Linked DNA regions of Homo sapiens: regions 1 and 3 are each linked to region 2. Evidence: fine-mapped expression QTL. A gene starts in region 2. Each other region holds a variant in brackets. All regions are shown on one strand. Distances are between the middles of the regions. Region 1 has its middle 90 kb from the start of BDNF. Region 2 holds the start of METTL15 (methyltransferase 15, mitochondrial 12S rRNA N4-cytidine). Region 3 overlaps METTL15 (methyltransferase 15, mitochondrial 12S rRNA N4-cytidine).

Region 1 (4,360 bases), 320 kb before region 2:
CTTCCTAGCTATGGGATCTTGGGTCTGTGATTTAGGAAAATGCCCAAATAACCACTGCTTAAACAAAATAAAAATGTATTTCTCTCTCATGTAAGGGCATGCCACCTAGGACTAGTATATTAGCTATACTCATCAGGAACACCAATCCCATCTATCTTGTTGCTGTTCTACCATTCTCACATGTGACTTCCATTTCAAAGTGCAGATTAATTGCTCTAGTTACAGTCATCACAACTAACATCCCAATCAGCAGTAAGGCAGGACAAGAAGGAGAAGAAATTGCTTTCCTCCATATAAGAACATTATCCGGAAGTAGAAACATACTTATTTTGTTTCTATCTCATTGGTCAGAACTTGGTCACGTGCATACACATACCTACAAGGGAAGCTGAGAAATGTAGTCATTATTCTGGCTAGTCATTTTTCTAGTTAAGAAGTGGGTGTTCTATTACTGGGAAGGAAGAGGAGGGCAGACATTGGGCCACAATTAACCATCATAGCCACAATAAGTGGCTCTTTGGCCCTTCATGTCTTAATTAATAAATGGGGCTAATATTATCTGCTTCATTAGGATTTAAGAGGATTAAAGAATATATGTATGTCCAAGTACCTAGCATATAGTAGGTGCCCAATTGATGGAAATAAGTATAATTATGCATGTAAAATACCTTGTGCATGGTGGGTGCCAGTTCTCCCTCTTGCTCCATTCCCCCTGATTTCATAGATGTTGGATGATATGTATGAAAGCTAAAAGGAGTCAGGGCTTAGACCAGCGACAGACTAATGCATGTAATTCTTACTGCTTCTATCCATTTTCTCTCACCTATTCCATCTGAAATAGGTTAGATGCTAAACAGTTAGGACATGAAGACAGAAAAGTGACCCCTTGGCCAATTGCCTCTCAATTAAATCCATCTTGTAGCAATTTTTGGAGTAATCATTATCAGGGATCTGTATTAGGAGGAAGCAAAGGTCATACGGGCTTCTTTAATGATTAGAAACTCTTCATTCTAGGGATGAGGTTAGATAAATTAAACTAAGCTCTTAAAACAATCAGGCTGACCTCATCATCTCAGAGATCCAGAGCCAGGAGCCAAGCTCATGCTGGGTCTCCCTCTATGGGCCCCCAGAGTATGGCTGTCATTGATGACATCTAGACCAGGCTCTCCTGAGTTTCTCAGGGCAGAGAAGAGAGCTGATGGGGAAGGGTTCATCCAATATCTCCAATATTACCAATATCTCTTCCACAGAGATTGGATGGAAAGACTCCAGTCAACAACCAGATAGAGGCCACTTGAGTGAAACAACATTTAGGACTCTGGAAAGCCAGATTTTCTCCCAAAATTCTTTCCCTAAGCTACTGTGAATAGAGTCAGCTATGAGATAGTATAGGGTATGGGGCACCAGGGTCAAGGTTGAGCCCATTTGAAGTAGGGACATTCTCAGTCATGCACTTTGCATCTGGTTTGAAATCCATATCATTGATCAACTAACACATTCATTCATTCTTTCAACAGTGATAATTAAATACCTACTATGTGTTAGATCCTGGAAATGTTAAAGCCAGCCATAAAGGAAAAAACTTGACGGCAACTACAAAAAGCAATAGGCATTATGAGGGAAGTCAAGATTGAAGATGTGTGGGGTAAAATAGGAGAAAGAAATACAGTTCCACTCTTTGTGCTATTTGTTATTTATATGGCAACCATTTTCTCCTTCTCCTCAAATAATATCTTTTCTTTTCTATTTCAAATCTAATACATATTCATCACAGAAACCTTGGATACAGAAAAGCAGAGGGGAGGAAATACGAATACTATATAACCTCACAGGAGTGATAAGCACTGCCAGGTTTTTAGTTTATGGCCATCTTCCTACCACCCTCAGTTCCCTCCTTCCCAGAGTCCCTTGCAGCAATATGGGGAGCCCCTCCCCACTCATTTCCAGTAAAGTGAAGAAAGCTGGGACATTCCTTTAGGGAATGGCTGTGCTCTGGATTCCGCAACAGTAGATACAGTCACCCCATCCACCCCCATTTAAAAGGTTTTAAAAGCTAAATAGGGCCCTAATTAAAGAACATGAACTTGGAATCAGAGAAGGCAGAAGGCCATTACAAAGACTTTGGATTTTAGCTCGAGTGAGATAGGAAACTGTTGTAGGGTTTTTACCAGAGGAGTGACACACTCTGGCTTATGATTTAAAAGAATTATTGTAGCTGATGTGTGATGACAAGTTAGGAGGCAACTGTAAAAATCCAGGCAAAATCTAAGACTAGTTATTTGACCTCTCTGAGGGTACTAGCCTGAATAAAAACTCTCTGAAGATATCAGGTCCTAAACAGATGTTCTGGAACCTGTAAATGTTATCTTAAGAGGAAAAATAGTTTTCGAAGATGTAGTTAAATTACAAATCTTGAGATAGGAAGATTATTCTGCATCACCCAGGTGGGCCCTAAATGCAATCACAGCTGTCCTTATAGGAGACAACCAGAGGAAGAGAAGCCGTGCATAGCAAAGAGAAGGTGATGTGAAG[A/G]TTGAGGCAAAGATTAGAACGATGAGGCCTCAAGTCAAAAAATGCTGGCAGCCACTAGAAACTGGAAGAGGCGAAGAACAGAGTCTTCCGTAGAGCCACCAGAGTGAGAGTGTGGCCCTGTAGATATTTTTATTTTGTTCCAGTGGTACTGAGTTTTGACTTTTGGCTTCCAGAAATATTATGGAATAAATTTCTGTTGTTTGAAGCCATCCAGTATGTGGTATTGTGTTACAGCAGACTAGGAAACTAATACAGATTACGGCACTGGGAAGGAGGAGCTGCCTTAACAAATACCTAAACATATGGAAGTGACTTTGGAGTTGAATAATAAATTTTAAGGTACATGCTGGAAAAAGCCTATATTTCCTTAAACAGAGTATAAATGTGGATATTAACAGCATTTCTGGTGAGAATTGAGAAGGAAGTGAGGTGCATGGTAGAGAAAGCCCATATCATCTTAGAGGATAAATGTATTATCATTTAAAAAAAATTTATAGAATATGAACATTAAAGGTGCTTCTGGTGTGAACTGAGAAGAAAAAGAGGAACAAGTATTGGAAGCTGGAAAAAAGGTGATTCTTGTACAGTGGTAGAAAATTCACTAAATTGTGTGCTACTGTTGTGTGAAAAGAATTTGTAAGCAATAAACTTGGATATTTACCTGAGGGGATTTCCAAGCAAAGTGTTTAACGTGTGGCCTGATTTCGTCTTGGTGCTTATAGCATAATATGAGAAGAAAGAGATACTTGATAAAGAATTGTTAGGCAAAAATGAACCAGGATTTGTTGCTTTTAAAAATTCTCAGTCTATTCAGATTACAAAAGATGCTAAAATTAGGAGATTTACTGTTAGGAAAGAGCACTCTGGAGAGAAGGCCAAGGGTGTAACAGGACAATTTTTTGTAAAGGCTAAAGAGACTGAAAATGTGATTATTCAGGGAATATCTGTTGAGGGCCCTCTGGCCTAATAGCATAAATCCCTGTGGGATAGAAGGGAGATACACAAGATTTTTGAGAATGTTATAGCAGCAGTAATACTTCCAGTTTGGACTGAAAGGGGCAGAAGGAAGATAAAATAAACAAAGGCTATTGGACTTCCAAAAGGTCTACACGCAAGACACAAGACTGATAAAATGACTCAGCTGAAAACATGTGCTACACTTAGTGGACTCCAACAGCCACCTCTCATGAAAAAAAATCACGCTGAGAAACGCAATGCTTTTTGAATAGCAAGATGGGCTTGCCAATTCTTATATCACATTCATTCACAAATAGAGATGCCTGTGCACAACTATCACACAGTTGTCCTTTGGTGTCCATCGGGGATTGATTCCGGGACTCTCCAAGGATACCAAAGTCCATGGATGCTCAAGTTCTTTTATAAAATGATGCATACAACCTATGCACGTAACCTATGCACATCCTTCCATATAATTTAAATAGTCTCCAGATTATTTATAGCACATGAAACAATGTAAATGCTGTCTACTATTGTTATACTGTATTGTTTAGGAAGTAGTGACAAGGAAAAAAGTCTATACATGTTTAGTACAGACACAACCATCCATTTAAAAAAAAAATTTCAATCTGTAGTTGTTTGAATACATGGGTGTAGAATCCTTGCATAAGAAGGGCTGACTGTATTAGCTAAATATAAATTTTAAACAACACTCATTTCACCGGTGACAAATTATTTCTAACACTTCTCATGCTAATTAACAAATCCTCTACAGTTACCTTTCTAGTACTATTGATTTGCTTCCTTCAAATGCAAACTAACCAATTCTAGACTATGAATTCTCTTTAGGGCACTTCATTTGTTTAATTGA
Region 2 (4,360 bases):
AAAAAAAAAAAAAATCATTTTTATCGTGTCTCTTAATTGATTTGGGGTATTTCTATGATGGGACAAGATGCACTTTCAATATAAAAATATTATGTATTTGTAAATACTTTTCAATAGTAGAAGAGGAAGGGCTGGGTGCCCTGCCTCACACCTGTAATTCCTGCACTTTAGGAGGCCGAGGCGGGCAGATGGCTTGAGGTCAGGAGTTCGAGACCAGCCTGGCCAACACAGTGAATCCCCGTCTCTACCAAAGATACAAAAATTAGCCGAGTGTGGTGGCAAACGCCTGTAATCCCAGCTACTCGGGAGGCTGAGGCACGAGAATTGCTTGAACCTGGGAGGTGGAGGTTGCAGTGAGCAGCGATCACGTCACTGCACTCCAGCTTGGACCACAGAGCGAGACTCTGTCTCAAATAAATGAATAAATAATAGAAAAGGAGATTAATTACTACTATTAAAGGCAGATAATCTTTTAAGTTTTTTTCTTTGTGATTGTGCTTTGTAGATAATCTTTGTTTATTGAAATAGTTCTTACAAACTATGAACTTAATAAGAAGCACTATCTAGTCATTGGATATCACATTCTCTAGCATCAAAGTTTATAAAAACCTTACAAAAACGAAACAGGAGGCTAGACGTGGTGGAATGACACTAAAAATTAAAATCTGTAGAGTGCCTAAATTTCTACCTAATTATCCATAATCTAAACTATATATTATACCACAAAATCAGTTCATTCTGGTCAAATACTCTCTTCTCATATAATAAACAGCAGTCAGTCTTGGCTTCTCTGTAACTGAGTGACTAATGAGCTCCTAAAAAAAAAAAAAAGTCCTGCGGAAACCAAGAACAGACTATAGGACTGATTCTAAATGTTTACAGTTTAATTTCATCTGCAGAGCATTTGCCAAACAGTATCTCTTCCGTACCTCATCTGATCCTCGGCAATCCCGTTAGGCAGTCAGAGCGGCTTTTATCTCGATGCTACCTACAACTGGGGCTCAGGAGGGGTTCCCGATTGACCAGTGCAAGACTAACAGTTAAAGCTCTTCAGACAAAAATTTTATGCAGTGATGAACAAAAGCTCCTCGTTTGATAGGTAAGCCCCTGGGTACGCTTATATGTGAGTCTGAAACAAAACACTCCCAATTTGGAGTCCGGAAAAAAGCTGACACTACAAGGTGCTGGGCAGTTAAAGTTCTCTGCCAGTCTGGGAAAGGGGCCAAGATGCCCTTTAAAACTTAAGACTTCCTCTCAGGACTTAAGGAGATCCCTGCCCTTCCAGCTGAGCAGTCGAGGATTACGGTCAAGCAGAGCTGTGCTCTTAGCAGGTTCTCGAATCCCTTTTTCCTTTCACTTTCTCCCCAGGTACCCTGATCCCCCACCCCTCAACGCTTCTGTGTTTGTCAAGAAGCCCACCTGGTCTTCTAGACCTGAAGCGGCAGGACCCTCCGTTCCCAATAATACAAGTCACCAAAAGGAGCGTCCCAGAGTCCAGTTTTACCTTCATGTGCCTCTCACTCACTTCAGGCCCAGGCCAGGTTACCGCAACCACTTCACTTTAATGTCCGCCTCCCAGCGCTTCAGACTCAACCACAATATTCAAACCCAAGCCACTTTCCTCAGCGCTTCGTTTCATTGGCTGCCGCTCGCGTGATGTCATCACGTCGGACGCTGTCACGGCTCGCGGCAGCTTGGCGCCAAGAAGCTCAGCCTGGCTGCGCAGGGGAAGCTCTTTGCTTGCTCGTCACCGTGGCAACGCGCGCGGCCGTTTCCGGAGGCGGTGGCCAAAGTGGGCGGGGCTAGGCCGGAGCTGCTGGTGGGAGGCAGCCACTTGAGATCACCAGGCCTCCTGTAGACCGGCGGGTGCAGGGCCCGGTCCCAGAGTTAAGGGTGTGAGTGAGACTGCTGCGGGCAGGGGTTGGCCTATGCCCTCTGCTAGGGGGAGAGGTGGAGTTTGGGTGTGGATTAATGGGTTCTGGGTGTTTATTTTCTTTTCTCTGAGTAGTGAGGCCTCCAAGAAGTTGTAGGGACCTGTTTCTTCCAGACACATTAATATGGGCCAAAATGTGGGGTCTCTTCACCTGAATTAATTGGAGATCTTTTGGGTTGAGGCCTCAGGCTTCATTTCTCAGGACTTCCAGGCCTACTCCCATTAGTACTGACCGTGAAACTATTTTCTGTTTGGTTACTTTTTACATTCTCTGTCTAATGATGGCATAACAAAATAAATTTAAAGATTTTGGCTTGGTTTATTATTAGGTGAAGTGATTTTTTTTAAGTCCCAGGTTATAGATATTATTTCAGCATAGACACTTTAAAAAGAGAGAAAATACCTGGAACAAATCGGAAATACGTTTGCTAAAATAACTTTATTTGGCAGGGTGTTTTTAATAACAGTATCTGAATTTCATTGTTCTATATATTACTGTTATTGTATCCATTTAGCAATTATTTAGATTTTAGACACAATAGTATGCAATGGAATCAAACTCTTCCCTCTTGGAGCTTATATTTTGTGGATTCAATATCACTTTATAAATAGGATGACTCATACCCATGCAGAGTATTATAAATGCAACAATATATGGAAACCTCTGTATTATGGACATTTATTTCCTGTTGAGGAAAATCGGGAGTATTGTGTACTGTATGTGATGCATGTTATATTATTGTTTCTGATCACTAGACAGAGGATCAATAAAGCTACTACTTATTTTTGGCTGTATTACGTGTATCTTAGCTAATGAAATGGTTATTTGTGTGCTGCTGGTCTTGGTAATAAAATCGAGATGTCTTTATTTCCAGTAAGAACTCATTGTATAGTACTTTACGTTTTGACTTCCCAGGTATTTTATTAGTCCCTTTACATATGGTCTCTCAGTTAATTCTCAAAACAGCCCATGAGACGTAGGTAATATTATTTTCATTTTTCTGAGAGAAAACTGAAGTTTTCAGAAAATTCCTAACACAAAATTTTGTCTTGAACTATACAGGCAAGGCAATTCAGAATTGAGTCATTTGTCTCTGAAATACTTTCTGGATTAAGTGACATTAAGAGAATATCTTAATCCAGTCTGAAAATATGCATATTTTGCCAGTTGCTTGTAAAATTGCATGGATCATTGGTGAAGAATAGAAGTGTTTTAAAGTTTGTCTTTTTTGACACCCACATTGTATAAGGTTTATCAGTGCCACAGATGTTTTCACACCTAATCCAAGTACTTTAGATTTCAAATTCAGTGTTACACTTGCCATTTAACAGTGTTCAGATGATGAGGTCCATATTTTAAAGGAATTGTACATTTGGTTAAAGCAGAGAGATTTTGACATTACAATCAATCCCACTACTGTGCCACCTTGCTCCTTGTAGTTTCTAAACATAGAGCTAATGAGACAGAAATTCCCACTTTTAGTTAAAAATTGGAGTATAACTGCTGTGTTATCAGAATACAAGTTTAATATACTTTCATTGTAAACCAAAGAGCAGAGATAAGGATAAATGAAAAGTTAGATTTAAAGTTGTTTCAGACCAAAAAATAAAAATGGAAAAAGTAAAAGTGAATTTAAACATGGCAATAGTGAGGTCTTATTTATTTCCCCCAGGAAAGTCGTTTGGAAACCCCAGGCCAACAGGACCCTTTGGCAGCTGAGGCTGGAAACAGCGGAACCAAAGGCAGACGGTCCTCAGTTGCTTGGGCGGACGTGGACCCAATCTGTCCGTCCTTACAAGTTTCCCCCAGGGGCAGGACCTAGACGCGCGGCGCATTCAGGTTCTCCTGGACCGTAGTGGTAGTCGCTGGCCCGAGTTAGAGGCCAGCTGAGAAGTCTTCGTGCTTCAGGTGAGGAGAAGGGGACCGAGTCCCGGGAACTCGTTTTGGAAACCACCAAACCTTTGGGGGTACTCCACAGGGGTCGCTGGATTCGTCCGGAGCAAAAGAAAAATACGCCCCTGACCCTCTCCCTCTCTTCAACACGCCTTCAACCTGGGTTTGGAAGTTTCCGAATAGTTTTTCCTCGTCAGAGCGTAATTCTTAGGCAAAAGGGTGTATTTTTCTCTTTCCTTAGAACCTCTTTCACTTTCTCAGCGTTCGTGTGCCAGCCGCCACGTCGCGTTTTTGTCCTTAAAAATTACATTTTCAAACAGGATTTCCCTGCCAGACAAAATTGACTGCAATGATTATAATTGTTAGAGCCCTTGAGGGAGTATCCTTCATGGGCATCACTCACCTGTGTGTTTTCACAATTAAAAGAGTAATCTGGCAATTTTATGCTCTCAACAGCCAAAAGTGAACTTTGCTTGTAGAGAAAAGTTAAATGACTTAACTAGGAGATCACAGAGGCAGTTTTCCTGACTCCC
Region 3 (4,000 bases), 45 kb after region 2:
TCATACCTACTTTATATATTTCTAGCATTTAGCACAGTACCTCATTCAATAACAGTTTATTGCATTACTGTCCCTCCTTCTGTATCTTGTAAATTTCTGAGTGTCTCAGCCCAACAAAGTTTAGAATCTTAAGTAGGCTTATAGCTGTTCTTCAAGACCTGTCAATTTCCTGAGTGTTCCCCTCAATAATTCTTTAATTTTTATACCCACTGTTATTGGTCCCACCCTCTTCCTTCAGATTTCAATAATCAAATATAGTTATTTGCTTCTGAAATAAAGAAGGTCAATTCCCAGCGTGAGTGCCTGGTTTATTTATACTATATAACACTAGTTAGTGGATCTTGTATTTCTACTTTTATTTCCCAAGACTTTTAGATTTTCCCTTCTGTCTCCTGGACCACACCTGCTACTTTATATACATTTTAGACAGGTGAACTGAGATTTGGAGGAGTGAAATGAGTTGCCCAAGATCATGGAGCTAGGAAATGATATAATTAGTTTTATATGTCCTCAAAGCCTATGTGTGCTTTTTTTTTTTTAATTAACTGCAGCACACTGCTAACCTCATAAGCACTAGGCCTAAGCTGCTGTCTTAAATTATGTACTAATGTCCCTTATGTTGAATTCATTTCTCATTTCCAAATGGATGGTGAGGAGGAAGTAGGCTTTAGGATATAAATTTTTTCTTTTTAGTCAATTTTGTTGAAAGGAATTTGTTTATGTATTTAGTGATAGCCATATGATGGTCACTAAATTTTGTTTTTTAAATATAGTTTGACAGAGAAAAAGGGAAAAAATGTTAGGAAACGTTTCTTTTTTTTAACTCACAGTCTTTGAGGGCCTTTTTTTTTGTACATTGGAAAATAATTTTGAAAAAGTAAAATACAGCCATCTCTTAGTGTCCATGAGGGATTGGTTCCAGGATCCCCTTGGATACCAAAATCCGAAGATACTCAAGTTCCTTATATAAAATGATGTCATATTTGTATATAACTGTTACAGGAAAGGGGTCCGTATCCAGAACTCAAGAGAGGGTTCTTAGATCTAGTGCAAGAAAGAATTAGAAAGGAATAAAAGAGTGGCCACTCTATAGGCAGAGCAGCCCTAAGGGCTGCAGTTTGGCTATTTTTATTGTTATTTCTAGATTATATCCTAAACAGGGGTAGATTATTCATGAGTTTTCTGGGAAAGGGGTGGGCAGTTCTCAGAACCAAGGGTTCCTCCCCTTTTTAGACCATATAGGGTAACTTCATGACGTTGCCATGGCATTTGCAAACTGTCACGGTGCTGGTGGGAGTGTCTTTTAGCATGCAAATGTATTATAATTAGCATATAATGTGCAGTGAGGGGGACCAGATGTCACTTTCATGGCCATCTTGGTTTTGGTGGGTTTGGGCCAGCTTCTTTACAGCACCTTGTTTTATCAGCATGGTCTTTGTGACTATATCTTGTGCTGACCTCCTATTTCTTCCTGTGACTTACAATGTCTAACCTCCTGTGTCTCAGCCTTATTTTACCCAGCTCCTATTCAAGATGGTTTCACTCTGGTTCGAAT[A/G]CCTCTGACATAACTACGCACATCCTCCCTTTAAATCATCTCTAGATTACTTATAATATCTAATATAATGCCTCTCCATCCCTTTACTCCAATGGGATTCAACAGTACTCTCCATGCTGGCAAATTCAAGTTTTGGTTTTTGGAACTTTCTGGAATGTTTCTTTCTGAATATTTTTGATCCTTGGTTAGTTGAATCCATGGATGGGGAACCCATTAATATGGAGGGCTGACTATATTCTAATGTGTGATTTACACAGTTGGGATTGGATAAATGGAGAGAGAGTGAATAGATAAAAGAAAAATTTGAGATACATAGGTAGATGAGCCCATGAAAATATTAGTCTGTTGGTTGCTTGTAAGAAAATAAAGAATTAGAAAACTTCATTTTACTGTTGTACTTAAGTTTTGTTTGAGTGACCCAGTCTACTGAGTGGGCAAAGAATGTGCTTAGAACATGATGGAATTGGCATTTAGAAAATCCAACAGATAAAATATTATACTCACTGACTCATGAAACAGAAACAATTAAGGTCCCAATTTAGCATTCTAAATTGTCCAGATTCTGGACAGAGGATCTAATCGTTAGGCTCATTTTACAAATATCCATGTGGTAGAGTTGGAAGGATGAGCTAAGCGCAGAAATTGGTAGTGCTGGGAAAAGTTCTGGTTTAAAATTTGAGCCTCTGTTAATCTCTATAAATTGACTCATTTACATTTTAATGTAAATTTCTAAATATCAATTGAAATAATGGAGCTGTTTGAATTTTCAAAGTGGGTTCTTACCTGATTTTTCTGTTATTGATTCTTTCATGTGTAACTCATAAGTGCAAAGTTTATCTTAATTTCAGAGGAGCTGGAAGGAAATTAGGAGGTACAACTCGTAATTGAAGGGGAGATTCTAGCATAGTGGTTAACAACACAGGCTGTGGAGCCAGACTGCTTGAGGACAAATCTATGTTCTTTCTCTTTCTTGTTACTTGCTTTATGATCTTGGACAAGCCACTTGATTTCCCATTTTTTTTGTTTTCTCACTTGTACGATGTGGATAGTATAATACCTACCTTATAGGGTAGTAAATTCTTGGTAAATCTTAACAATTTGTAGTTTCTTCCTTGCCATGAACGTGTTCTGTAATCTTTGGCAAGTCACTTTATATCTTTGGGCTTTGTTTATTAATTTTGTATGAGGGTATAGATAAGCTCTAGTTTACCTTCTAGTTCTAGAACTGATTTTAGTAGAATAAAATGGCATATCACAGCTTATGGAATAAGTGTATGAAAAATATATAAATTTTGTTATTAGATAAGTACTTGAATAAATAAAGTTGTAATGTCAGAGGTCTGTGACTTGGTACTGTGTCACTTTGGGCAAGTCTGTTGGCTTCTTTAAGCTTTATTAGTTTTACCTATAAAATAGAATAATAAGAACTCTCTCATACAAGGATTGTGCTGATTTTAAGAAATGACACCTGCAAAATGTCAATTATAATGCCTGATTATATAGTATGTAGTTAATAATGCTACTGCACTTAAATCCCTCTTACACAGGGTCTCTGTTTTTCTCAGTTCTCTCTCACAAAGGAGTATCTCTCTAATTTATGCATTTGAATTTGTGCCATTCTCAGTATAAGATGATTTTAGCGTATGACTTAAGTGAATTTGTGAGACAAAACTGGGCAAGTTTTATCCAGTTCTTTGTGGAAGGAAGAGCCATTAAGAAACTACAAAAGATAGAAGTTTCTCCTAATGGGATTTATTTTGGCAGGATCAGGATTGAGAATACAAGGAAAAGAGAATTAAGAAAGCAGGTTAAAGGTAAGGTGTTCTCTAGATGTCTGCAGCATTAAGGTAGCATTTTATGGGAAACTGGTCCCAGCTTCTTTCTATCTCATTCCTTTATTTTGTTAAGGTTTCTCTCTGGTTTAGGATTGTATTAGATCCAATACATCCCCATTCATAATGATTTTTAGAATGTAATGCTCTCCAATAGGAATATGGCATTGGTTCTTTAACTAGTTTTGTTAGGCATTGAAGAAAAAACAACTAACTTTTCTAAGTTTCAGCATCTTCTTTTACAAGGGGTGGAGGAGAGAACGAGATTAAACTAGATGATTTAAATGTTTGCCTTTAGAGCCAATTCTTGATCTGTCCAGGAACATGGACCTTATTACTTTACAGCCTCAATAATGCATCCTTTCTCTCTTTACTTTTAACTTTGTTAGAATTCACTGTCTTTTCCTTCCCACCTCTGCCAGGTTTCTGGAGTGCTCTGTCTGAATTAATGGCTTATGGACCCTCTTAACAGAGATGAGAGGGAGAGGATAGGGAGACCATATTGCATATAGGATCTGTAGGTTTGTGTGAAGGCCAAGGAAGAATGGGCAATGCAGGGAAGAGGACAAGAGGTTAGATCTTGGATAAAGACTGTGTGAGTTCAAATTCTGGC

The links. PIP is the estimated chance that this variant, and not a neighbour inherited with it, causes the effect. A credible set is the group of variants that fine-mapping cannot tell apart.
Region 1: its variant is the best candidate, but not a certain one, in a credible set for the expression of METTL15 in whole blood (TOPMed, PIP 0.87).
Region 3: its variant is the best candidate, but not a certain one, in a credible set for the expression of METTL15 in whole blood (INTERVAL, PIP 0.50).

What each region holds. Positions count from the first base shown.
Region 1 is chr11:27,788,281-27,792,640 of GRCh38, forward strand. No RefSeq gene overlaps it. Among named protein-coding and RNA genes, the nearest start is that of BDNF, 90 kb to the left of the region's middle. The variant A/G (reference allele first, on the strand shown) is at 2,533.
Region 2 is chr11:28,106,560-28,110,919 of GRCh38, forward strand. It overlaps METTL15 (methyltransferase 15, mitochondrial 12S rRNA N4-cytidine), which reads left to right and starts at 1,829. Exons shown (of 7, transcript NM_001113528.2): 1 at 1,829-1,893; 2 at 3,607-3,842. KIF18A (kinesin family member 18A) reads right to left here and starts at 1,597. Exons shown (of 17, transcript NM_031217.4): 1 at 1,505-1,597. RefSeq lists enhancers at 810-1,334, 875-1,134, 1,335-1,858, 2,045-2,124, 3,370-3,870 and 1 more.
Region 3 is chr11:28,151,711-28,155,710 of GRCh38, forward strand. All of the region lies in intron 3 of METTL15 (methyltransferase 15, mitochondrial 12S rRNA N4-cytidine), which reads left to right. Among named protein-coding and RNA genes, the nearest start is that of METTL15, 45 kb to the left of the region's middle. The variant A/G (reference allele first, on the strand shown) is at 1,556.